7 linked regions of the Homo sapiens genome follow. The protein of the gene in region 4 interacts with the protein of the main gene of each other region in a biochemical or structural test. Each region holds a gene or a part of one and is shown on either strand. Other genes may lie near its edges. The genes, in order: SNTG1, MPP4, SNTB2, DOCK4, PDZD2, MAGIX and SIPA1L3.

What was found.
Region 1: the proteins of DOCK4 (region 4) and SNTG1 interact in a test that uses a peptide from one of them, tested with the Homo sapiens proteins (one large-scale study listed by IntAct).
Region 2: the proteins of DOCK4 (region 4) and MPP4 interact in a test that uses a peptide from one of them, tested with the Homo sapiens proteins (one large-scale study listed by IntAct).
Region 3: the proteins of DOCK4 (region 4) and SNTB2 interact in a test that uses a peptide from one of them, tested with the Homo sapiens proteins (one large-scale study listed by IntAct).
Region 5: the proteins of DOCK4 (region 4) and PDZD2 interact in a test that uses a peptide from one of them, tested with the Homo sapiens proteins (one large-scale study listed by IntAct).
Region 6: the proteins of DOCK4 (region 4) and MAGIX interact in a test that uses a peptide from one of them, tested with the Homo sapiens proteins (one large-scale study listed by IntAct).
Region 7: the proteins of DOCK4 (region 4) and SIPA1L3 interact in a test that uses a peptide from one of them, tested with the Homo sapiens proteins (one large-scale study listed by IntAct).

Annotation. Positions count from the first base shown.
Region 1 is NC_000008.11:50,789,407-50,792,906, reverse strand, and holds part of SNTG1 (gamma-1-syntrophin), read right to left. Parts: intron 237-3,500; coding exon 78-236; 3' UTR 1-77. UniProt on the Homo sapiens protein: Adapter protein that binds to and probably organizes the subcellular localization of a variety of proteins. May link various receptors to the actin cytoskeleton and the dystrophin glycoprotein complex.
Region 2 is NC_000002.12:201,695,845-201,700,101, forward strand, and holds the start of MPP4 (MAGUK p55 subfamily member 4), read right to left. Parts: upstream 2,801-4,257; 5' UTR 2,743-2,800; intron 1-2,742.
Region 3 is NC_000016.10:69,302,164-69,305,663, reverse strand, and holds part of SNTB2 (beta-2-syntrophin), read right to left. Parts: 3' UTR 1-3,500. UniProt on the Homo sapiens protein: Adapter protein that binds to and probably organizes the subcellular localization of a variety of membrane proteins. May link various receptors to the actin cytoskeleton and the dystrophin glycoprotein complex.
Region 4 is NC_000007.14:111,741,400-111,744,899, forward strand, and holds part of DOCK4 (dedicator of cytokinesis protein 4), read right to left. Parts: intron 734-3,500; coding exon 614-733; intron 263-613; coding exon 141-262; intron 1-140. UniProt on the Homo sapiens protein: Functions as a guanine nucleotide exchange factor (GEF) that promotes the exchange of GDP to GTP, converting inactive GDP-bound small GTPases into their active GTP-bound form. Involved in regulation of adherens junction between cells.
Region 5 is NC_000005.10:32,107,631-32,111,130, reverse strand, and holds the end of PDZD2 (PDZ domain-containing protein 2), read right to left. Parts: exon of another isoform or gene 3,163-3,500; coding exon 2,996-3,162; 3' UTR 199-2,995; downstream 1-198.
Region 6 is NC_000023.11:49,161,362-49,165,557, reverse strand, and holds the start of MAGIX (PDZ domain-containing protein MAGIX), read right to left. Parts: upstream 2,801-4,196; 5' UTR 2,669-2,800; coding exon 2,620-2,668; intron 1,776-2,619; coding exon 1,629-1,775; intron 852-1,628; coding exon 769-851; coding exon of another isoform or gene 696-768; coding exon 468-695; intron 369-467; coding exon 197-368; intron 1-196.
Region 7 is NC_000019.10:38,206,539-38,208,869, reverse strand, and holds the end of SIPA1L3 (signal-induced proliferation-associated 1-like protein 3), read right to left. Parts: 3' UTR 501-2,331; downstream 1-500. UniProt on the Homo sapiens protein: Plays a critical role in epithelial cell morphogenesis, polarity, adhesion and cytoskeletal organization in the lens.

The sequences.
Region 1 (3,500 bases), on a different chromosome or scaffold from region 4:
TCTCTAGGGTCTAAAATGATGAGTAAATGTGTCCTGCTTATACAGTCATGGGGTGTGTCAATGAAGAGTTCAGTATGTCAAGTTGTATACTTTGCTTTGCTCGTGGTAGCAGAGCTGGCAGCAGTAGAAGCAGTAGCTTGATTGCCTAAAAATAGAGGGTCCAAACAAGCTACCTTGGCAGCAAAGAAGGAATGAATGCAGTGAAGAACAGCAAATAAATTAGAAAATTCCAACTCCTGAAAGGGAAAGAGAAACAGGTCAGATAACATAAAAATTAATGTCTTTAAAAATTTATAATAGCTAGATTTTTTTTCAATTTCAATACACTTATCTAGAATCTATGATATGTAACATGTGGAAACTAATTTCAAATGTAGACATTTTTGGTCAACGTGTAAACATCGTAAGTAGTGAAAATTTATTTCAATACATGGTGGATAAGAGGTAGGAGGACTAATCACTCTTACCATCTATGAATGTTCTTTTAGCACTGATTGATAAATATATTTTGCCAAAATTTTACTCTTGATAATGTACAATTAAAGATAAACTTGGAAGTACTTTTAAAAGTATTTTTATCTCTTTGTGCACACATCAGATGATAAATATGGATTAGGGCAATTTAAAACTATTCTTGAGTATTCTCTAGAATGAGTTAATATTTGCCATAAGAAACTGAATAAGAAATGCTAGAAGTAAGGGGATATGAACTCTTATAACCAGAGGAGCCAAATGGTTCACTTTCAAAAAATAATTCCTGCATTAATTTTAATTGTGGCTGGCTGTTTAATGGTTTATGTGGCATATTTACTAAAAAAAAAAAAAATAAACTAGAGCTCACTAATTCATTTTGGATTTTTAGAAATAGGTTTCTCATTTAAATACCAAAGGAAATTTGTAACCCATTTATTACCAGTGGCAACCAAACTATATATATTGCAGTGAAAACAGAAAAAGTTATTTCAAACCATAATTTTGTCAAAATAACTATAAAATCTTAAAGCTATGCTCAGAATACATTTAGAAAGATGATGTTGCTAGTATTATTATTAAAGACCATCAATAATCACATAAACATGTCTTAATTTCAAGATGATTGAAAGACTAATACATTTGTGTGCTTAATGAAATCAATACGATGAACTTATCACAAGGAGGGTAACTAGAGGGTAATAAAGCATATGAAATTTCTGACAAACTCATTGCTATTTTATTATATATTTCACTACATATATGTAATAAAGAATTTAGAATTATAATTGATATGTACATGACTGTGTTTACAACTTACATGTGGCAGTGGAAAATATTACAAAATATTCAATACTTTATGACACATTGTAATATCTGTCGTGTACCAGACAGCTATTTAAATAAAATAATTCATCCGAGGAGTATTTTCTCAGGTCATGCAACAGGAGTACGATACCCCATAATATATATTCAGGTGTCCCTATAATATAGAAGACATAGCTATGCTTTCTCAGTAGCTCCCTTGAAACCTTCAATATTTGATAGTTTCCTTTGTGAAATAGCAACTTGTCCTAGAGAATAGAAGAGGTTATTCATTTAACTATTCTAATTCCCTTAGATATTTCCACCAAAAAAGTTTTTAGTAACTCCATCATAATGATCTTAGAAGCTTTATTTATAATAATCTGCTTCAGTGGCACTAGTCATGTTATTTGTAAATAAGCAAGTTTCTCTTTGCCTTAACTCACCCTGGAAATCCTCCATTCACCCCATAATGCTTGGTGTAGCCAGTTTATTTCCCAAACACATTTTAAATACTTTCTCTATCTTCCCAAATTAAATCCACCTAATGTGAAAGGTTTGGAAATTTTGGGAAAATGTAAAATGTTCTTGCATGTTATTAAAAAATAAAACAACAACAACAAAAATAAGCAATTCATTCTTGGTAAGGAGGAGAATATAGTTGAGTGTTACAATTGGGTGAAAATAGTATGGCAAATAACTTTTTCTCAAAGGTAATTCTGCCATCTCTTTATTAAAATAGAGGTTATATTTTGGTTACCAAAAATAAACAACCCTTAAATATCTAAGTATCCAGGCATCTTTAGAAAAATAAAAATTTTCAATTACTCCCACCTTGTCAATTATTTATCAATAATTTGATATAGATTGACACTTTAAACTTTTTATACCCATTTTGAAGTAATGGTAGACGGGAAATAATAGCAGGTGATTAGAAGAGAAAGCAGGAGACCAAGATGGATCCAAGTTTGACTCTTCATTACAATGCCCACACATCTTTCCTCTGCCTCAGTGATCAGCCTTGGCAACCATTTCCACTCCTAGGGTGTCAACGATTCCTTTTATGTAAACTCACACTGCTCATTTACTAATTTCTTATGTGAGTACTAGACCTGCATTCTTACCACCTATCAAACATCCACTGATGATGAACATCTATCTATCCATCCACCGACAGCTTCCACCAAGTCACAGACTTACAAGTTTCCCTTGTAAAAAAAGTCTTATGATCATCATGATCCCTCAGATATCACTAAATATAAGCTATCTTCAAAAATGTAAAGAGTCAGCCATTCAATAAAATACCAAATGCTTCCTATGCATCTACTCTTTTTTGTTGTTGTTAAAAGATAGCAGTGAATAAAACAGACAAAAACAAACAAAGGAACAAAACAGTCCTGATGGGAGTTACTTTCCAGTGACAGGAGGCAAAATGTGACTAAGGGCAGAAATAAATTAAGGACAATATGTCAGAATATGACAGTTACCATCAAGAAATAAAGCGGAGGAGACAGCAAAGACTACTCAAAGGGCCGTGGGAAGGAAAATTCATGTTGCCTTGTATATGGAACTTGAAAGGGAAGATGGAGTGAGCCATTTCCATGTTTGTGGGGAAATATTCCAGACACAAGAATTATAATTTTAAAGGCCCAGAGATAGGGACATTCCAGGAGAGTCAGAAGAAAAGCAAGGGTTATTTTGTGTGGAATGGAATGAATTAAGAAGTACTTGGCAGACAATGAGATCAAAGAAAACACTTTGCATGCTGCATGAGCCTTTATGAGTTTTACTATGAGCGACATGGGAAACCATGGGAAATTTTTGAGCAGAGGAGTGACAGGCATTGACAAAAGTCAGAAAATGATGATTCTGGTTAGACTATTGAGAATGAGCTTTATGAGAATTGGATTGAAAGAAGGAGAAGTTACAAAGTTTTCTATATGGAAAGGGGTTGAATTTGAAAGTAGATTTCAATAACTGGAAAAAACGTGTTGCTCTGCAAATGGAGAAATTATGGGAAAAGCAGGTTTGGAAGTAAAGATCAAGATTTTGGTTTTGGGCATGTTACATCTGAACGCATATTAGACATATAGGTGATAAGTGGAGAACTGCATATATTAGTGTGGATTTAAGGGAAAAATTAGAGTTCAGAATAGAAGTTCAGCTTCTGTCAGCACATAGATGGTAGGTAAAGCACTGTGGTCTGGATGAGAAGATCAAGGTGT
Region 2 (4,257 bases), on a different chromosome or scaffold from region 4:
CAACCAAGGGGTATGCGGTGGGGGTAGGGACCAACAACATTGTTATAGTAGGACAATAAAGAATACATTAAGGTTTTTGTTATAAAAGGAACACTTCAAATTAGTTGTTAAAGACTGGAGTATTGACTCTGATAGGGTTGAGAACCACTGTCTAGAATCTAGACTGATTGTGGGTTGAAGCCAGGAAGGCTATCTAAAAGAAGAAAAGATCATTATTATTTTGACTCTAAATTCTAAGGCAGTGAGAAGAGCAACACAGAAAGCTGTTACAGCATTTTAGACAACTTTCCCCTACACATTCCTTTCCAAACACCCTGAAGTCTTCCGGTTTGCTAGGTTCTACCAAAGCTTGACATCGTTATGCTTTTGACTTGCCCTCCATCACCTACCTTGCCCACTTGTAATTGAGTCAGATTAAACAATGCGTTTTCCTGTGTTCTGTGTTGTTTTTGACTCTATTGAATCATTTAGCATCACAGCTGCATATCTGACTCATCTTCCTCCCTGGAGGGGAGCACTTCCAGGGTAGAAAATTGAAAAGGGAGATGGAGTGCCTGCTAGAGAGCAGACAAAAGTCAGAGCAGACAGATGAGGCTGACACTCAGGCTGACTCTTAAAATTGGTTCCCCTCCAGCACCTCACAAATCACACGTCCTTGGCAAAGCAGTGCAGATTAAACAAGCCAACTGTTGTTTGCACGTCATGAGGTGGACCACATTTCTGCCATATTTAATGCCCGAATGACTGTGCTGAGCTAGGCCTACCCATTCAGCAGTTGGGGGCACACACTAGAGACTACATATTTCTGAGATGAATTTATTGTGAGGGAGCTTTACAGATAGACTGTGCTTCACAGATAGGCGGTGGTTTCTTGAGTGAATGCAATGGTTAAAATAGCTTCTAATAAATCTAGAGCCAACTTCAGGGCTACCTAGATAACTAATTCATACATTCTAAAAGGCTCGTTTTGACCCAAAGTTTCTCAGCCATAGAGGCAAAAACAATAATTACAGTAATCTACAACTTATGCAAATTCTAAAAACTGTGCTTGGCTCCTCATCTTCAGGTTCCTATGACAAATTTATGGTGGACTGAATGTTGTGTCCCCACCCCCAATTCAGATGTTGAAGCCCTAATCCCCATTGTTGATGGCATTTGAAGATGGGGCCTTTGGGAGGTAACTGGGTTAAGGTCATGAGGTAGAGGCCTCAAGATGTCATTAGCGTCTGGGTAAGAGCCATCAGAGTTCATGTGTTCTCTCTCTCCCTGCCAGATGATGGCACAGTGAAAACGCGGCCATCTGAAAGCCAGGAAGAGAACCCTCGCAAGAACCCAACCATGCTGGCATCCCAATCTTCAACTTCCAGCCTCCAGAACTGTATGAGAAAATACATTTCTGTTGTTTAAGCCACTGTCTATGGTACTTTGTTATGACAGCCAAAGCTAAGACAAAACTCATAGAAAAAAACTTCCAGAAAATGATTTTCCCTCCCTCCAGGTAGCTAAGAAAACAGTTGCAACTTCTTGCCCTCATAGCACTTCTCATTTTCCCAGTTCTTGTATCCACTGGCTTGCTCAGTGTCTGTCTCCCGCAGGTGTCATGTCTGCAGAGGGCCTGGGGAGCAGAGATGTTGCTTATCTTGTTCATGCTGCAGCTTCACCTGCAACAGTGCTTGGGCCATAGCAAGCACTTGGTATGTTCAGTTGTTGTTGGGAAGGGGTAGAACAAGGAGAGGCCAAGATCCAGAAGTAAAAGGCTGATACCTCCCTCAAGGCAGTAGCCAGCAGCTGGGACTTCAATCCTAATGGGGGAGGCAGCTGAACTCCAGAGGCCTGTGCCCTCCCTTCCTTTCCTCCCTGGCCTGGTATCCTGACTTAAACCTCTTTCCCTATCAAACTTTAAAACTGGGGGCAGAAGCGGATCTTAGAGATAATCAAATGCAAAACCTTTGTTTTACAGATAAGGAATCTGACATTCAAGGAGGTATTCAGTAGAGTTAACATGTAGTAAAATCGAGTTTTCCTCTTTTGTTTCCTTAGTCCTGAAAGATGCTGATGCCTGGCATGATGCCTGGCAAAAGACTTACCTTCCTTTCCATGACTTCTGTACCAAATTTGTCAGTTGAAGCTTATCTATTTCTGCTATCTTGAGAGTGAGAATTCTTGATTGAGACTGCAAATAAGTAAGCACCCACCACATGCAATTCCGGACTGAGTACACAGAAAGGATAGCCAGTTCTTGACTCAGAAGATGCATTAGTGTGACTGATGCCTAAGGAATTTGTCCTAAATCTTGTTTTAAAAGTATTTCCATTAGCTTTTTAAAACGTACTATTAAATGCCACAACCCCCTACCCTTACTATGCTTGTTTTTCAAAATAGTGCTTTTTACTAGACAAACCCTAAAAAAGCACTTGGAAACTTAATGATGAGAAATGGCCCTTACAAAAATAGCTGGCTTCCTCTGGGTCCAAATGCTGTTGATTAGGACCAGGGCAAATGCCCATTGTACTCAATCTTCCTGACAACTCATTATTCCATACTGAAGAAATGGCTTCTCGAAGCAAAACCTGCTCTTTCAAGATCATAAAATTCCCCATATCATTTGAGTTAAAATGAAACTAAGCCATTTGAGTTAGATTACCCAGATTTATATCTTTAGCTATTAAAAACTGACAGGCAAGCTAGGCAGTTATGGATACATCTTCTGGTAACTGAGGATTATTTGCCAAGGTCTCTTACCTGCAAGACTGTAAACATGCATGTTGCTCCTATCCAGACAAAAGCTTTAGTAGGATACTAGTGGCCTGTTAGCTGCCAAAGTCACCTCACTGCTCCCGATAAAATCTCTGCACATCCTCTTTGATGTAATCCACAGATGCCTAACCCAGCCTAACAACTAAATTACTCACAAGCCTTTCCTGCCACAAATCTTCTTAAGTATTCCTTGAAGTCTAATTTGTATCATTTTCAAACCTACATTCTAGTATTTTCTCTCAAATTGCCAACACATAGTTAACGGCAGAAAAACATAGTATTTTTGTTGATTAGTTCAAGATGACAGACATTCCACAACAGAAGATAGCATTTTTAATGAAAGAAAAAAATGTGGCAGGACCGGAAATAAGCCAATAACCTACTAACCTTATTAAATCTCTCATGTTATGGTGAGAAAACAACTGAAGACTGTTCAGCTAATAATAGAAACCCATCAAAAACAGTACCTTCTGGTCAATCCCCTCCCAAGCCACTGTTCTGAACCTAACAAATAGTGCTTTCTGTCTCAGATAGGAGCTACTTCTTTATCTGAAAACTTAATACTGCAGGGAGTGCTCAGTGGGGAGAGCATTTGGAAGGGGATATTGCAGAAAGGAGAGGAAGGTATTGCTGACAGCAAGGCAAAAGGTAGAGACCAAATGGCAATTATCAGAGGGTCCTCAGCCCTTCTACCCATATTAATCACATGGCTTTCCTTATCTCTCCATCATAGATGAAAACACAAGTTGGGAATGTGATACATTTGTGTTTTGAGTACAGCATATTTTGTGAAAAGCACTTGATTTCAATAAGATTTTCATTTTTAACTCACTTTTAAGAACTTTCAATACATAACCAGCTATGAAATGACATCTCTGGCAGCTGTAGTAGCAAAAAGCACTGGACTTCTAGGGAAGTAGGGAGTAGGGAAGTTCTAGGCTGGAGTCCCAGCTCTGGCAGTGAGCAAATCTTGGTCACTGCTTGTCTGAAAAATGGGGGGAAATGGGGATAACACCTGCATCCTTGGGCTGCTGTAAGCATTCATTACGCATGTGAATGACCATTGTAAACTGCTGCAGGAGTGCCAAGGACTTCTATTTACAAACATTGGCCTGGAGATTTAGGGTTTTTCTTCCAATACACTTCAAAATTTATAACTTTAATATGCTATCTGAAAAGCATATAGTAGGAAGAATCCAAAGTAACTGAACAGTTTCATTCAAGACTCCAGTAAAAGGACGAATTGTAACATGGCTTTTCTTAGAACAGAGACAGCCTATCATCATTGGAAATCTTCTCAATGGGTCAATTTGTCTCAAAGTTTTTGTTTGTCCATTTCCACATATTATCCACCCCCGCCCAGAGTCAGAAATTCTGTAAATTTGGCTTTACCAGGCAAATGTGGTTATTTATGTGTTTGTTCAGAAACTCAAAACAATCTCCAATGTAAATGCAAAGTATTTAACATAAACGGATTTTTAAGGGTTGGTCCCCTTCCAA
Region 3 (3,500 bases), on a different chromosome or scaffold from region 4:
TATAAAAAGAATGAATGACTACAGTCAAATTCAACTTAAAGTTTAAGCAGAATCCCAAATTTAAGTAAGTCTCTTTTCATTACATAGATATTTGATCTGATCAGAGCAATTTGCTTTGAGACCAAAGAGATCTGGCATTTTACTTATTCATTAGGAATTGAAAAAAGAAGACCTTTGGCTTTCTAACCAGCCATTTCATTCATGGCATCAACAGCCGATGGCAGCCACATGGAAATGTATGCTGGATATTTGGATAGTTTAAATATTATGTACAAGGAATAGCTTATAACCAGTGAAAATAATAAGAACATAATTCAGCATAAGTGTCCAAGATAAGATACAAAAAAGCAGAGAAAGTGCTTGAGTCTACAGGTCTTCCCTGAAAGTTTCAAAAATGTTTAATTCTTAAGCAGGTAGGCCTTTTAATAGAATTTGCATAGCAGCATACAAGGTAATTTGCATTAAAATATATGAACAGAGATTCTTCCATGGCTTTGAAAACAAATATATCCACATGCATATAAGTTAAGCAAGAAGACCTGGAATTTCTCACAAAATTAAAAAAAAGAATCTATTATAACCTTTTCTCACACTTTCGCCCATCAAAACCATTTACAGCAAAACCTGTTTCTAGGAGAAACATAGCCTTGTCCAGATTCCACACAGCTTAATTTTTTTTTTAAGCATAATTTCTGGGGCCAGGTGCAGTGGCTCACATCTGTAATCCCAGCACTTTGGGAGGCTGAGGCAGAAGGACTGCTTGAGTGCCAAGAGTTCAAGACCAGCCTGGGCAACATGGCGAAAAAAAAAAAAGAAAAAAAAATCCATAAAAATTAGCCAGGTGTGGTGGCACACACCTGTGGTCCCAGCTACTCAGGAGGCTGAGGTGAAAGGATCATTTGAGCCCAGAAGGTTGAGGCTGCAGTCAGCTATGATCATACCACTGCACTCCAACCTCGGTGACAGAGTGAGAACCTGTCTCAAAAAAAAAAGAAGGAAAAAAAAGAACAAATTCTGGTTTATCAGCTAAGTGCATTCATTCAGCTGGAAAAGCTTTGTTACCATTCAACTTAGGAGGATAAATTAGGAAAACAATCAGTAATAATGTTAGGTATTTGTTGTTTAGAAAGATTTTTTTACTTATAAAAATATAAGAAATAAATAATCCAATCTCTCCTGCCATGCAATAATTTTGAGTAACAAAGTTTGTGAGAGTACAGAACATAAAAACAGGCACTATCAGACCTTCTTTGGCCTAAAAAGTGCTAAAACATGGCTTTAAAATAGGTGAATGACATTTAAAGTAGTATTTTTGACTGCCTATATATGTTCCAGTATTTAACCTGAAACTCTTATCTACTAGGGAGGTGAGTTTACAGTTACAACTATCTAATAAATACTGCAGGAACTTATATTTAAGTATTTCTTCATATACAACATTAGAAACTAATTTCCAGATAATGTTTCATTTGATGACTTCAGGAAAGGACTTACCTTTTTCAGAAAAAGAAAAACTGAATGTTTTTCTTTTGTTCCTTTCCTTTTCTTTTTATGGAGAGAAAGGAGAGAAGTTTTAGGAGAAAAGGTGGGAGACTTTTCATATACCAACTCGCTGCTCCTAGGCATCTGTGTGGAATGTGGAGAAGCTGTCGAAGCCCCGGGTCTGGGGGGCACAGGAAGCAGTCCCTCTGAATGGGGAGCAGACACTATTCTGCAGTTTCCTTTCCATTCCACACACTGGAACCCACCACATCCTCAACAATTTTCTTAATTCAAAATGAAAAAGAAATGAAAAGTGAGCTGGTTCTATAAAAAAGGTAGAATATCGAAAATTCCCATTTGTAGTTATCATTTGGAAATAATTTGCCATACTTTGGCATCTAAATATAAATACATATTTATCATGGTGTCCCATTCATTAGAGAGCACTTCATTTGCGGACTGAAAATCCCACAAACACATTTGATTGAAGAACAACCTTGGTCATCATGACTGGAGAGCTGTTAGGTATGTAAGAAAAGCAGCAAAAGGGTTCTGGTTCTTGGGGCTGCTAATGGACAAAGGAAACCTCCCACACTTTCATTTCACAGCAAGACTCAAAAGATATTAAGAACCCTACAGACCTCAGTGCTATACATGTCAGTTTAACCTTGACCAAAATGAGTGAAAATGCACACATGCCTTGCCTTTCCTGCTCACATTTTAATTCCACCTATTTTACATCCTCATATAACCAACAAGCAGGGTGGCTCAGAAGCTCCCCTGCAAATCTCAGTGGCTTAGCTTTTCACATTAACACAGAAAACCTCAACCAAATGGCTTTGCTGCTGAAGTCTGTAAAGGCATCATTCAACATCTCATATTAATAATGCTCTCACTGCATAGAGGGTTCAAGATTGCCTACCTGAGGGTATTACATATTGAAATTCTGATTCCAGAAATCATTTCTGGACGTTCAAGAGATTTTTTTCCTTCTCTGAAATGAAAATTTATTGTGGGCCAGGCACGGGGGCTCACACCTATAATCCCAGCACTTTGGGAGGCCAAGGCAGGTGGATCACTTGAGGTCGGGAGTTCAAGACCAGCCTAGCCAACATGGTGAAAACCTGCCTCTACTAAAAATACAAAAATTAGCTGGGTGTGGTGGTGGGTAGCTATAACCCCAGCTACTCAGGAGAATCACTTGAACCTAGGAGGTGGAGGTTGCAGTGAGCCGAGATCATGCCACTGCACTCCAGCCTGGGAGACAGAACGAGACTCCGTCTCAAAAAAAAAAAGAAAAGAAAATTTATCTCAGATGGAGCCAATCTTAGGTTTATGAACTTTCAAAACATAAAAAGCTCTTGAAAGACATATTCTTGTCTAGATTTTAATTTCCAGTTTTAAGCAGTTCAGATAATTCATTTTTGGAACTTTGACAATTATATGAAGCTGGGGGAAGAACAGGCATCTCTCCCCAACCTCTGCATATTGTTGGTTTCACTGTAATGAGGAAGGAGGACTGACTTATGGGTGAAGGAGGACAATGGAGTTACAATGTTGACCTAGAACTCTCTCTGCTCATGGGTCCTCCCCATCGGTCAGGCCGCACTGAAACCAAATAGCTCATTTTGCACACAGGTGTGTTTTTCTCTTCTTTTCTCCCCCTGTGCCTGCCCCATCTGAAGTGACACCCTCCTCCACCCTCCACAGCGCTCACATTCTTCCGTGGCACTCTTGATCAATCAAGCAAACAAGAACTTTCCCTAGACCTTTCTTCAGAGAGCATAAAGAACATCCAAGTCAATATTACCTATTCTTTGAGATCCAGGGACTGTGCTAATTTTGACATTTTATATGATATTATACCATTTTAAATGTTTGCAGATATATACCACCTTCAAAATTAGGAAAAACAAGCTGAGTTCATTTTCTAACACTACAAAATCAGCATTCTTGCTGCTACTGTGTCCTAATGATATCTGGCAATCTTAACCAAAAGCAGGTAGCTGTTCCACGGT
Region 4 (3,500 bases):
GGTCTGCAGCTGCCTCGCGGGTTAGTTATTTCATTAAGAAATAGCGTATTTGACAAATTGTGCCATAAAGAATGAGAGAACCATTCCAGATCAGCTTGCGGGTGAGGCCAAATTGTAAGATAATTTGGAATATGACTTACCTGCGTCTAGGAATTACCCTGGTACCATCTGGGCTCACAGAAGCAGGTGCTGAGTTTCTACACACACGAGGGCTTCCATTAGGAAAATGGACAGGACTGGCTTGCATACAAGCAGAGAACTCCTAAAGATGTAGTAAAGGAAATATCTCATTACAGTAATGATTTGGGCAAAATAACTTATGAGACAGGTTAGCATACTAGGCACACATCCTAATTGCCATCAAGTCTTCACATAGGGAGCTATTAAAGCAAGTTCCAGTATTATTTGGCTTTCCCTCACTTACATTTGTGTTTTCCCAAAAGGAAAGCCTCGCAAATAGCAGACAAGGCAATTGTATTTGAGGGCTCCCTGGTAAAACAGTGCAGTTTGGTAGAAAAACCACAAGATGTCACTATTGGATACATCATCATCCCTTTAACAAGCAAACGGCAGTGATCAGGCTGCCCCGCCATGGACACCTAAGTATACATACCTGTATCCCTAAGCTCGACTTCATCACAAAGAATTGGTCAACCAGCTTTTTGTGAAGGGGTCTCATATCTTGAGGTACAAACTTCTCATGCACGGCCAAACCAAATTCCAGAATCTGTGCCTTAATTCACAACATAAGGAAAAAACCTCACATCAATGACTACCTCTCACTAAGTGCCTGCTATGGGCCGAGCACTTTACTACGCATTTCGCTTGCATTATTGCTAATCCTCTGCCTCTGACAAGGTAGGAACAGCTGTCACTTTACAGGTGAAGAAAAACTGAGGATCTGAAAAATCCTGCATGGATAAAAGACAAATGGGGATTAGAACTTGGTTCTGATTTCAGACTTAATTTTCCTACTCCCCCAGGCTTCTTTCCCATGTATTTTAGATCTATAATTATAATGCCTCGTAACAGTTATGTGTCCTTTTGGCCCCTTCCTTCTCTCCCCAGGGTGGAGAAGGAATAGGGGCATGTGCTGCTCACTGTTAAGAGGGCCGGCAATTCTCCCTTAAAGATCTCTTCTTTGCATGGCACCCTCTCCCCCCACATTTCCCTCTCCCACTAGGTTCCTCTGTGCTCATCCATCCCTCCCACAGACTTTCAGAATCTGCCAGGGAGGATGGAAAAAACAAAACAAAAAGGAATTCTATGACAGTTTCCATGCTTCTTGTTTTTGTTTAAAAAGATTATTCCTGGCCAGGCGCGGTGGCTCACGCCTGTAATCCCAGCACTTTGGGAGGCCAAGGCGGGTTGATCACAAGGTCAGGAGTTCAAGACCAGCCTGGACAACACAGTGAAACGCTGTCTCTACTAAAAATACAAAAATTAGCCAGGTGTGGTGGCACGTGCCTGTAGTTCCAACTACTCGAGTGGCTGAGGCAGGAGGATTGCTTGAATCCGGGAGGTGGAGGTTGTAGTGAGCCAAGATCATGCCACTGCATTTCAGCCTAGGTGACAGAGCTAGACTCTGTCTCCAAAAAGAAAAAAAAAAGAAAAAAGAAAAAAATCCCAAAAAACATTATTCATATTCACTTATAATTCAACGAGAGAGCAGGTCCTACTTAAAAAACTTTCCTGCAGTGAGGATCCGAAGAGATGAAGGTAAACATTCAACCTTCCTTTGTGCAACCATCAACAGTGTGTGATTCCTTTGATTCGAGCAGCAGCTGTCTTTTGTATTTTAAAAATGCCCCCCATGCTAACATGGTCAAAAGGACAAATTCCATAGACTGGGAGGAAAACGAATCCTATATCACCACAAGGTTTTGTTGTTATTGTTGCTATTTTTAATCTTTGCAGCTCGTGAAGATTTTAGGTTGAAAGCTCAGGTCAAACAGGACTGACCCTGGCGGGTTGGGGCATCCAGCACCTTCCCTAAGGGACGGGGCTCTGGATGCTGCCCACTGCCAGCATATTTGCATAACAAATATCAAGGATGCCTTTGAAAGGCACACTTGGAGTGCAGTGTGTATGAGGCATAAAGGGAGAGGCTACATCTGTGATGAGGACATGGAAGGGATGTAGGAGGTGGATCTAAACGCAGAGGCCCCCAGTCTTCTCCATTTTAAACACTAGCGTTGGGTGACTTCCCTTTTGTTCACAGAATGTTGCAAGTTGGGTTCTCTGGGAAGTAGACTCCAGCATGGATTTCATAATGTTTATCAGGGTGTACCTTGGGATTGATGCCTGTCAGGGGGAGGGACAGAAGCCGGACTTGACAAGAAAAGAAGTTGAGCTGCACAGCAGTCCTGTCAGCTACTGCCAAACCCAAGGGACCTCTGGAATGTTCTTAAAAATTTATCTGTATTTTAATCTTTTTAGAGACAGAGTCTCACTCTGCTGCCCAGGAAGGAATGCAGTGGTGTGATCATAGCTCACTGCAACCTCGAACTCCTGGGCTAAGGTGATCCTCCCACCTCAGCCTCCCAAGTAGCTGGGCCTACAGGCATGCACCACCACACCCAGCTAGTTTTTAGGTTTTTGTAGAGATGGGGTCTTGCTATGTTGCCCAGGCTAGTCTTGAACTCCTGGTGTCAGATGATACTCCTACCTCAACCTCTGGACCTTTAATGGTCTGTCAAAGTTGTCCTGTGTTGGTCCCAAATGGCCAGGCTTTCTATTGCTTCCTCAGTATGGGATGTGCACCACTGAGAAGGTAGCAACCTTGGGCCAAGTGGCTCTCTGCAGTGGAGGCAATCCCTGAAGGGCCTGACAGCTGGAGATGTCTGTTGAGAGCCACATTTCCTGCAGCTGAGGCAGAGTAAGTCTGTCCTGGAAGGAGCACTGGGGTGGTGCATGTCTCTGTCCTCTAGAGAGTTTATCTGAACTACTTTGCAGAGGTCCAGAGAAGGATGGTGCCCTCTCCAGTCCACCTCCCCACAGAGATGATGAGACTTGGCCAAGGGCACATTGACAGTCACGTGCACTGCTTGTCTTATAACAGAGATCTCACATTTTCTAGGCCATGGCTCTTTCCACAAGGTTTCAGGAACATAAGCAGGACGTAGAAGAAATAAAGGTTCCCTGGTTTTATTTTTCTTGGCAGTCTTCTTGACCCTGAGCTACCATTTAATTCTGGGGAAATAATTCAGTCAGGCTGAATCCAGCAGATACAGTCCTGGGGTGGAGTGAACCATTCATAAGAGGTAAAACACAGATCTTTAAAAATCAATGAAGGTTAAAGTCATTGCATAATCCTAAGTAATGGATGACCTCAACTGCTCACTTCTAGTATCTACAAACACCCAGAGTCACATTGAGAACTTGACTTATTCTTTATTTCCTTACAGATCAGCTTCAAGTAATTCTTCTCTCTCTTCTGTGGCCACCTCTCTCCCTGTAGTATTAGGTTTTGTGGACTAAGCCTACAGAGCATAAAAGAT
Region 5 (3,500 bases), on a different chromosome or scaffold from region 4:
GGATGTTCAATTGTAAGAAAGATTTAGAGGTGGAAAAGTTTTGGATTGTGTCAAGATTGTGAGTGTGGCCTGGAAAAGGGTGGCTAATTTGAGTTCTATTGCCTTTGTACCTCTGATGCATTTAGGTGACAATAAACATTTCTCATCTCAATATTACTCTATTATTAACAAACAAACAGCCAAAAGAGAAAAAAAAAATCAAGTAGTAAGCAGAGTGTTTATTTTTTTTAAAATTACTTAAAAAAGGTTGTTTACAGAGATGTGGATTTATATAACTTGGTGACAACATTTTTAAAATGTACAGGCTATTTCATATTATTGCACTTACTCTTTAATATATAAGGCATTTTACTTTACATAAATAAAGGTTAATGTATAATATCATACAAAGTTATGGTGCCAATTAAGTCAACCATCAAATTCAATGAGATGTGTGGGAAGATGGAAATGAAACCCAGCCTACTTTAATCTTCATGGTATATTCTTGCAACTACGGTTTACTTGTTATAACACATATTTATTTACCCTCATAGCTTATTGTGAATGACTGACCAGTTAAAAAAAAAGAAACAATGACAGTTTTAGTAGGACAATACCATTAGTGTTCACTTCAGAAAGTGTGGGAATTTATTAGGCTAATTAGAAATACTAGTCATGCCTTGAACACTGAAGACAAATAAATAGCTTTCTATCTATCTTAGGGTCAAAGACAGTTTAGCTTTTGCTTCTTCCCTTAAATTTCAACTGTTTGTTGGCGAGGGAAACCTTCTGGCAAGATGTAGTAGCAGTGGCTGATGACTTTAGCATAGTGTATGTGGTAAGCCAGAGGTCTACCCTTGTACTCCAGATATGAGGATTAAAAAGACTTGCGGAAGGAGACCATTCCATTTGCTCCACATTGCACAAGAAATTCCTGTCTGTTCACATAGGGCTGTGCGTTTATTAATTAATTATTATTAGGCACAGCTGTAAGAGTGGAGGCGAAAAGCAGTTTTCAGTGTTGTTGACTTGAAATAGTCTTTGATTTAGGCAAGAAAGCAGAAACCACAAAACTGACCCCAGAGACTGAAAAACAATCAATCAATATCTATCAATCAAGCATGCACCTTGCACTGACTTCCTACAGTATTCTACCTGTAACTGTAGTGAAAAGTAGAAGTAAAATCAATAAGACCTTTCTAACTAACTCCTGTACCATATTTTCCTTTGTATTGCCAGTTGATGAGAAATCTGGACTCAGACAAGCCAGCTATTTCTCTCTCATCTGAAGGACCTCTCTAGGCCGACTTCAAAGATGTTTAGTGGGATTGGTCATTCAGAAAAATGATGATGTACAAAGCTGATGGCTAAAGCCCCTCCATGAATCTGGGGGTCACAGCCATAGACCCAAGCTGTAGGTTATTTAAAGAAGTATCTCCAACATAAAATCTTAGTGTCATGCACACAGGTATGGCAAATGCACTCTCCACTCATGTTGTCAGGGCTCAACGGGTTGGTTTGTGCCACTGAAGACGACCTGGCTTGTAACTACATTTCTGCTCCTTTACCTTGACTCACCCTGTTTCTCCTCCTCTTTATGACCCGATGAGAGTTTGGAATTATTTACCTAAGAAAATAAGGTACATCATGAGGAGAGAAAAGCCAGCTATGTGACGACGAACGGAATATCCAATCGGAATAGCTACTGGGAAGCAGCTCATGCCACCAGAGGAGGAGTGGCCAGAGTGAGTTTCCCAAGTAGCGTGAGTCACGACAGTCTTCTGTAGGAAAACATTTTTGGCAAAAGGAGGAAATTGCAAAGCGGGAAAACGAAAACAGCAAAAACTTAAGTCACTGCAGTTGTCATTATACTAGGTCAAGAAAAGAGATCCAATACTTAGAATGTTACATTTCTTAAACATGTTGGGAAAGAGGGAAAAAAACCAACCAGTCTCCTAAAAGGATTCCATTAAGCTCCTCTATTTGGATTGTACATACATTGTCTATAAATCCAAGGACACTTAGAAAGATACTTGATTTCTAAAAATTTAGTTTAAATTCATGGTTGGAGTGCATAAAATTCAGAAATGGAAACCCAGTGACTGACTGACTTGTGATATTTTTGTCTGCTCTTGGACTGACCAGTCTTGAATTCAAGCACTTATCAAGACAGGTTCAAAAACTAGTTGTAAGGTGCTTTTAGATGTTGACCTTTCTGCTCCCTCTAAGCAGTGAAGCTCATGGCTATTTAATACAGCTTATCAGAAGTGCTATTCTGTAAAACAGCCTTATGGCTTACACTTTTGAGATAGAAAATGATCAATACTTCATGGTGATCAATAACCTATTGAGTTGAACTTTGCATACGTACATTATACATTACACTCACTAAAAAATACTCTCAATTAATTATTTTGCTTTTTCCTTTTTGGACAATTCCTGAGCTCAGCCTAACAGGTCATAATTCATTTTTTTAAGTAAGTCTTATTCTCTTTTCAGGGTAACATATACAGACCTACATCTCCTCCTTCCATTGAATGTGCCTAAAAGCATTCTGTCATTTACTTACAAAATCATACAAAATGATTGATTGTCCTCTTAGGTGTGACATTTGTGTCCCCCTCAGACTTTTAGTTCCCTGATCACCAGGATTGGGTATGTTGGGAGAGCTGGCAAGAAGGAAGCAAAGGTCTAGCTAAATGTTTGTTTGTTTCAAATAAAGAAGGGTGTGTCACATCTTGTATCCCCATCAGTAAACATAACATAAAGGTAGGGGACAGGCACTGGAACGAAGGAACCCTCCCGGCCTGGGTGACGCAGGTGGAAGGCTTCTGGAGTTAATTTCATTGCTGTTGCACATACAGTTAAGTCAGGCTTCATGTGTAAGCACAAGCTTGGAGATTTTTATAGTCCGTGTCTGTACCAGTGTTGGCCATTTCAACAACCTGTGGTTTAAAGAAGTCACTCTGATTTGCTAAAGAAAGAAGAGAACTGAGAAAATGATTCTTGTTAAAATTCATGAAGAATTCCTATGCTTTCTAATTAATAACTGCACAGGTCCTTCTGGGACAGACTTCATAATATTCCAGGCATCAAAGTGCATGAGCCCAACCAGAGGTTTCCCATTAATAGCAAGAATTTCATCTCCAGCTTCTATTATTCCAGCTTGTTCAGCCGCACCACCTACGAGAATAAACACAGAATAATTAATAGCTTGGCAGTTTCATAGTATTCAAAAATCCTAAGTAAACTAAAAACTTTTAAGTGATAAAAATATCTAAATAATATATTATTGAATAGAGAAATATTTCTTAGAACACAAAAAGCATATATCCATAAAAGTAAACTGGTCTACAGAAAACAGTGCAACTCTAGCCCTCCTGCCGCCCCTCCAAACATAATCTGTAAGATAAAAATAAACTGACAAGGGGAAGATACTCTCTATGTATTTAATCAACAAATGGTTAACATCCAGACTAAAGAGCTACAAGTCAACAAGAATAACACAAAATAAAGTTGGG
Region 6 (4,196 bases), on a different chromosome or scaffold from region 4:
TCCCTGCCCCTACGTTATTCCTATCCTGGGACCCTGTACCCCTCCCTGCCCCTACTTGTGAGAATACCATGACCTCTTGCAGACCCTCCCCACAGAGACCACCAAACCCTTCCCACCCAGAATCTCAGCTTCTCCACTCTGTGAACCTCTCCCTTCTCCTCACTGATCTCTGACTTCTCTCCCTTGGGAAACCCACCAACTCCTTTTCGGGGCTCTCCCACCCCTCGAGGCTTGCCAGGGTGGGTCTCCAGAGGCCGACGAATAACCAGGTGGAGCTGGGGGCCTCCAGCTCGGATCCGCTCCACGGCCTGGGCATGGGTGAGGCCCTGCGTTGACTCTCCGTTGATGTGGAGCACGAGGTCCCCGACCTGGAGGAGTGCAATGCAGTCGTGTTGGAAAGGCAAAAGGAGAGCACCCCAACAAAGGCAGGGATAGCACCTACCAGTGGAAGGGGCTTCAGGGCTCACCTCCAAACGACCACAGCGCTGTGCTGGGCCATCCTTCAGCAGCCCGCGCACGGCCAGCGGAGTGTCCCCAGCTACATCCCGGCCCCCACCTAAGGTGAGGCCAAAGCCTGCGTAACCGCGAACCAGCTCCACAGAGAAATGACCAGAGGCCTGGGATGGCTTCGGAGCACTACGTGCCTTACCCTGGATCAATTGGGGAGGTGCGTTACATGTCTCTAACCAACGGTGCTGGAATAAAGGACACAGGTGTACATAGTTTGCCCTGAGGCAGGAGGCCTCCGATAGAAGGATGAGATGGTACCTGGGGCCGGTGATCCACAATAGTGGCATGAGGCAGGCGACTGTCTGTGACCTCTATGTCCGCAGAGTCCAGCACGCTAACAGCTGGGAGATAAAAGCAGTGGAGAGGGCTGTTGGGGGACATGCCATGGAAACTACCTAGGACCTGTTCCCTGAGTTAACATTCTAGCCTCATCTACTTGTCTTGCCCCTGCAGCTCATATACAAACTGGCCCACCATTTACGCACCATCCCCTCAAGTAATCTTAAAGGTTCTCAGCCCAAACAAATTAACTGTTCTGACCCCACCTTCTTAATAAACAATCCTGGGCTCAGCCATGTGAATAATCTTCCAGGCCTTCCTATCTCCCTCTAATAACACGCAGAACACATCCCTCAAACAACACCATTCGGCCCACCCTGGAGAATGCTACTCCAAAATTTGGCTCCTGAACCTTCCATAGCACGCCCTCTAATTAGCCTCTAACCCTCATCCCATTCCTGACATCTCAAGCCCCGCCCCCATGGGACTATAGGCTCCACCCCCGTGACTCACATTTCAGGCCTGCCCCTTCGCTGCGTGCCCGCCCCCCAAGCACTCTCCAGGCCCTGCCTCCTCAAAAAGGACCGCCGCCAGAACGGGGGTCCAGTTCCGCACTCTCATCTAATCTAGCCCTCGCCGACTGCAATAACCCTCAAGGAATATGCTAGAATAACCCCAAGGCTCCTCCCACTCGAAGCACCCTCCGATCCCCGCCCCAAGTCGCGCCCCTTGGCCCCACCCAAGACAGGGCAGTAGCTGCTGACCCCCCAGGCCTGTCCCACTGAACCCAACTCCTCTCCGAACCCTCCCCCAGCGGAGGCCCTGCGCCAGTCACTCACCCTCCTTCCGGCGCAGGCGCAATGTGGCGCCCGCCCTGCGTACCAGCGCTGCCACGTCGACCGCAGCTCGCGCCGCCAGGGGGCGCGCGTCCAACCGCGCCAGGAGCTGCCGGGCGCTAGGGCCCGCGAGCGGGGAGGGGCCGCGGCCTGCGCGCAAGAGGGGACAGGTCAACGCCGACCCTCGGCCTCGGCCAACCCCTATGCTTCCGGACGCTCGAAGACCTAGAAATGCCCCTCAGGATACCCGGCGACCCCTGGCCACTCCCTCGATAGTTTCGGAGGTCACTGCTGTCCCTCCCCTCACGCGATCCCCGACCGTCGCGGGTAGCCGGTGCACCCCCGCTTGCTCCCACGGTGTCCCTGGAGATCGCTGTTTGACTGCAATAGTCCTAGACACCTCCGAACACCCCGTGAGGTCCTCGACTGCCCCCTAATCACCCTGGATGCCCAACTCTTCGCCCGCGATATCTCAGGGGACCCCATTTCCCCAGATATCCTGGGAGAACACGGCCTGACCCCATAGCCCCGGAACCCCCAATTCCCCGTCTAAGTATCCTAGGCAACCGCTGCTACCCCCATGAATTCCCTCAGAGGGCCCGTTCCCCCCATGGCCCACATACCTCCAGAGTCCCCCTCCACAGGTCCCCAGGGGCCCCCAGCTCCCCTCCCCCCAGTTCACTAAGACCCTGAGTGCCCAGGTGTCCCCAGTGACCACGGGCAGACCCCTCCCCGCACATCTGCACGTCTCCCTGGAGACTCCTGAGAGCCCCTCCCCTGCTCTGGTGCGCGGCCCTTTCCCTCGTGTGTGGGTGTGGGTAGGGGACCTCCAGCCCAGCCTCCATCGCTGGGCCCCTGCCCCCTGCCACCTTCACTTGGGCGCCAGAGCCGCTCTGTTTACCACCTGTCAGAAGGAAAAGGTGTGGAGCAGACAGGCGGGACGGGGATGGCGGCGACTCGCCCTGTCCTTCCCCAACGACCCCAATCCCTGTACCTCCTCTGCTCCCCCTAGGGTCCGCGGCGTCCCCTGTGCGCGGCTCCATGGCCAGTAGTCCGCCGGGTGGACGCAGGGCTGCCAGCTACGAATTTTGAGCTCTGGGGCGCGCTCACCTGGCGGCCCGCCCAGGCCCTGGAGGCTGAAGCTGGCGGGTCCCGTGCCTGGCTCCCGGACCCGCGCGGTGACCTACCTGGCGGCCAGCAAGGAGGCCTGGCTGTAGGAGCCAGGAGGAGTGCTTGGCCTCACTCTGCTGCAGGCGCCGCACTCTGTTAACTAAAGGTCCTAGTTAGAATTTAAAAGCCTGACAATACCAACTGTTGCTGAAGATATGGAGGAAATGGAACTCCTATACCTCCGGTGGAAATGTAAAATGATATTGCAACTTTATTTATTTATTTAGAGACAGGGTTTCGCTCTTGTTGCCCAGGCTGAAGTGCAATGGCACGATCTCGGCTCACTACAACCTCTGCCTCCCGGGTTCAAGTGATTCTCCTGACTCAGCCTCCTGAGTAGCTGGGATTACAGGCATGCACCACCACGCCCCCCTAATTTTGTATTTTTAGTAGAGACGGGGTTTCTCCATGTTGGTCAGGCTGGTCTCGAACTCCCTAAAGTGCTGGGATTACAGGCGAGGCCCGCCTCAGCCTCCCAAAGTGCTGGGATTACAGGCGTGAGCCACTCGTGCCCGGCCTGCAACTTTAGAAAACAGTTTGGTAGTGTCTTTAAAAACTAAGCGTACACATATGAGCCAGCCATTCCACTCCTGCGTATTTATCTAAAAGAAAGCATACATTTACACAGCCTTGTCTTACAAATATTCATAGCAGCTTTATTTCCTGTCTTATTCATTTAGAACTACTGTAACAAAATATCGTAGACTGGGTGGTTTAAACAACATAAGTTTCTCACAGTTCTGGAAGCCGGAAAGTCCACGATCAAGGTGGTAGCCAATTTGGTTCCTGGTGAGGTCTCTCCTTTTGGGTTGCAGATGCTTGCCTTCTTGCTGTGTCCTCACATGGAATTAAGAGAGTGAAGGAGAGTAAAGGCGTGAGAGAGGCACACACAGAGAGAGGGAGAGATCTCTCTCTTCTGTTTCTTATAAGGTCACAGTCCTATCTGGTTAGGGCTCCACCTTAGTGACCTCATTTTACCTTAGTTGCCTCCTAAAGAAGCTATCTTCAGATACAGTCACATTGGAGGTTAGAGCTTTAACATATATATTTATGGCTGGGCACAGTGGCTCACGCCTGTAATCCCAGCACCTTGGGAGGCCAAGGCGGGTGGATCACCTGAGTTCAGGAGTTCAAGACCAGCCTGGCGAACATGGTGAAACCCCATCTCTACTAAAATATACAAAAATTAGCCAGGCGTGGTGTCAGGTGACTTAATCCCAGCTACTTGGGAGGCAGAGGCAGGAGAATCATTTGAGCCCGGGAGGCAGAGGTTGCAGTGAGTGGAGATCGAGCCATTGCACTCAAACCTGGGGGATAAGAGCGAGACTTCTCTCAAAAAAACAAAACAACAACAACAACAACAACAAATATATATATATATATATATTTATGGGTGGACAC
Region 7 (2,331 bases), on a different chromosome or scaffold from region 4:
GTTTCTGTTTCGAAAAAAAGTTAAAAAAAAAAAAAAAAAGGTTTTTTTAGAGGTAGGATCTTGCTATGTTGTCCAGGCTGGTTTTGAATTCCTAGGCTCAAGCAATCCTCCTGCCTCAGCCTCTCAAAAAGTGCTGGGATTACAGGCATGAGCCACTGCACCTGGCTGAATGTCCAGATTAAAAGTTGGCCACTATTTCTAAGACCCAACACAACCCTCTGGGCTGGGGCTGGCCTTCAGGCCTCCAGTATATGACCTCTGAGGCAGAATCTCACTCTTTTGAACTTAAGGACATTTCACATTCTGAGTGTTGGATTTCTGTCCTTTGGATTCCAAGGAAAAGAAGTTAGCAAGGCAGGTGCCCCTGGTTCTTAGGACATGTGTGTGGTGGTCATGGTGTGGGGGATTTGGGGACAGGAGCAGGAGGAGGGGCCGATGCTGGACCACACCCTCTGGTCAGCAACTCCAGGCAGCTGCCCCAAAAGTGAACACACAAGCCATTTCTATGAAACCTTTATTTCCTTTGAAACCTCCAGAAACATGCCAGAAAATCTCAAGACAGGGATGGGGAAAAAAAAAAGACAATAAAGAATAATAAAAAAAAAATCCAAATGAAACAAATCAACATATGAAAAAAAAAACCTGCTGCTATCTTCGGCCATTGGATAGAACATCAACCTCAAATTAAATAGATCTGTTTTTGCAGAAATCCTTAAAAAATAACAGAAAACAAAACCAAAAATCATAATTTACACTTGTCCATGTACATGATTAAGTCCCCAAAATGATTCGAATGATCTGAAGATGGGAGGAGACAACTGAAAAAAAAAAAAAAAAAGGGACCCGATGAGGGTCTAAGGGGTGGGGGTGGGGGACGGGTGGGCCCCCCAGAGAAGGGGATGGGGGAGAAGATGGCATCACAGTAGCTGGCCAGGGCTGAGGACGCTGCCTGGGGCACGCCCACCTCACTCTTGGTGTTGGGGGTGAGGGTGGGGGCAGGGGCAGCGCTGAGGTTTCCTCCTCCAGGGGGCCAGAGGCTGATCACAGGAGACGCGATAAGAACCCTCTTCTCTCACCCCCACCCATCCACACCGGCACCTCCGAGTGCCTGCGTCCTATGCAGTCCCCAGAGCCCCCTCCTCTGAGGTTCCTGACCCCAGAGAGAAGGCAGCAGAGGTCCCTGGACAAGGGCCGGGTTGCCTGGTGCTGGCTCACAGCCAGACCTGCTCCGCCAACTCCTCCCCGCCTGGTGCCTCCCAAAAAGGGCACCGGCCTGCCCTGACTTCATCCCTCTGGTCCTCCCACTGACCCCCAGCCCACAGGGGACACGCCTTGGTCCTCAGCTTGAGGTTGGGGGGATGAATCCACAGACTGTGGCCATACAGGCTTGTTCTGGCGCCAACTCTACATGAAAAAATAAATATATATATATATATATATATATCTTTTTCTGTTTGCTTTTAAAGAAGGAAAAAAAGAAACGGTTTCCTGGAGGAACAGCGTGGTACCACACCGGCATGGCCGCCCCTTATTGCCTTTAGAGAACCAGCGTCCAGTGGGGTTCGCGGGGTGCAGTGCTCCCCGGGGAGCATGGTGAGGGGGTCTGGTGGCCGCTGCTCGGAGAGATGGGCTGGGAGACTTGCAAAGGAAAAAAAAACCAGAGGAGGAGATGAAGGCTGTTCTCCTCCAGCCCTGTCCTGAGGGCTTCGGGAGCCCCTCCTGGAACCCAGAAGAGGCCGAGGCTGCTGGTCAGGGCCAGGTCGTGCCGGGAGGAGGAGGAGAGAGTCGGCTGTGTGGTGGCTCCACCGCCCCGGCCTGGCCTGGTTAGCTGGAAGGTGGAGGGGCCTGTGGACCCCTAGCCCAGGTGCAGTGGCCTCTGGCGGAAGAGGAGCTGATAGAAAAAGATCGTATAAACCGTCCTGGAGATCCAAATAGAGTTTCTCTCTCAAATAAATCGGCTCTGGAGGCTAGCCTTGCCTCTCTCTATCCTCAGGCCCCCAAGAAAATAATTTAAACTCTAAGAAAGTGCTCCTGGCTGCTTTTTGGGAGGAGGGGGTTAGGGAGGGGATCATGTTCGTGCTTTTTGGAGCTCACGTGCTAGGGACCGAGGCGCCCTGGTCTGTGTCCACGCGGGCCTCACCTCTCTGGGTGTGGGGAAGAAAGGGTTGCTTTCACGCTGTACTTTTCATGCAGGGGCCTCGGCCCCACAAGCCGCAACTTTGTTGTGCGTGGTGCAGAAACCTGCTGTGTGACCTCCTGGAGCCGAGGCGTCTGGAGACTGGCTCCTCTCTCCGTCCCCATCAGCTTCGAAGGGCTGGTCCCAGGAAGAGG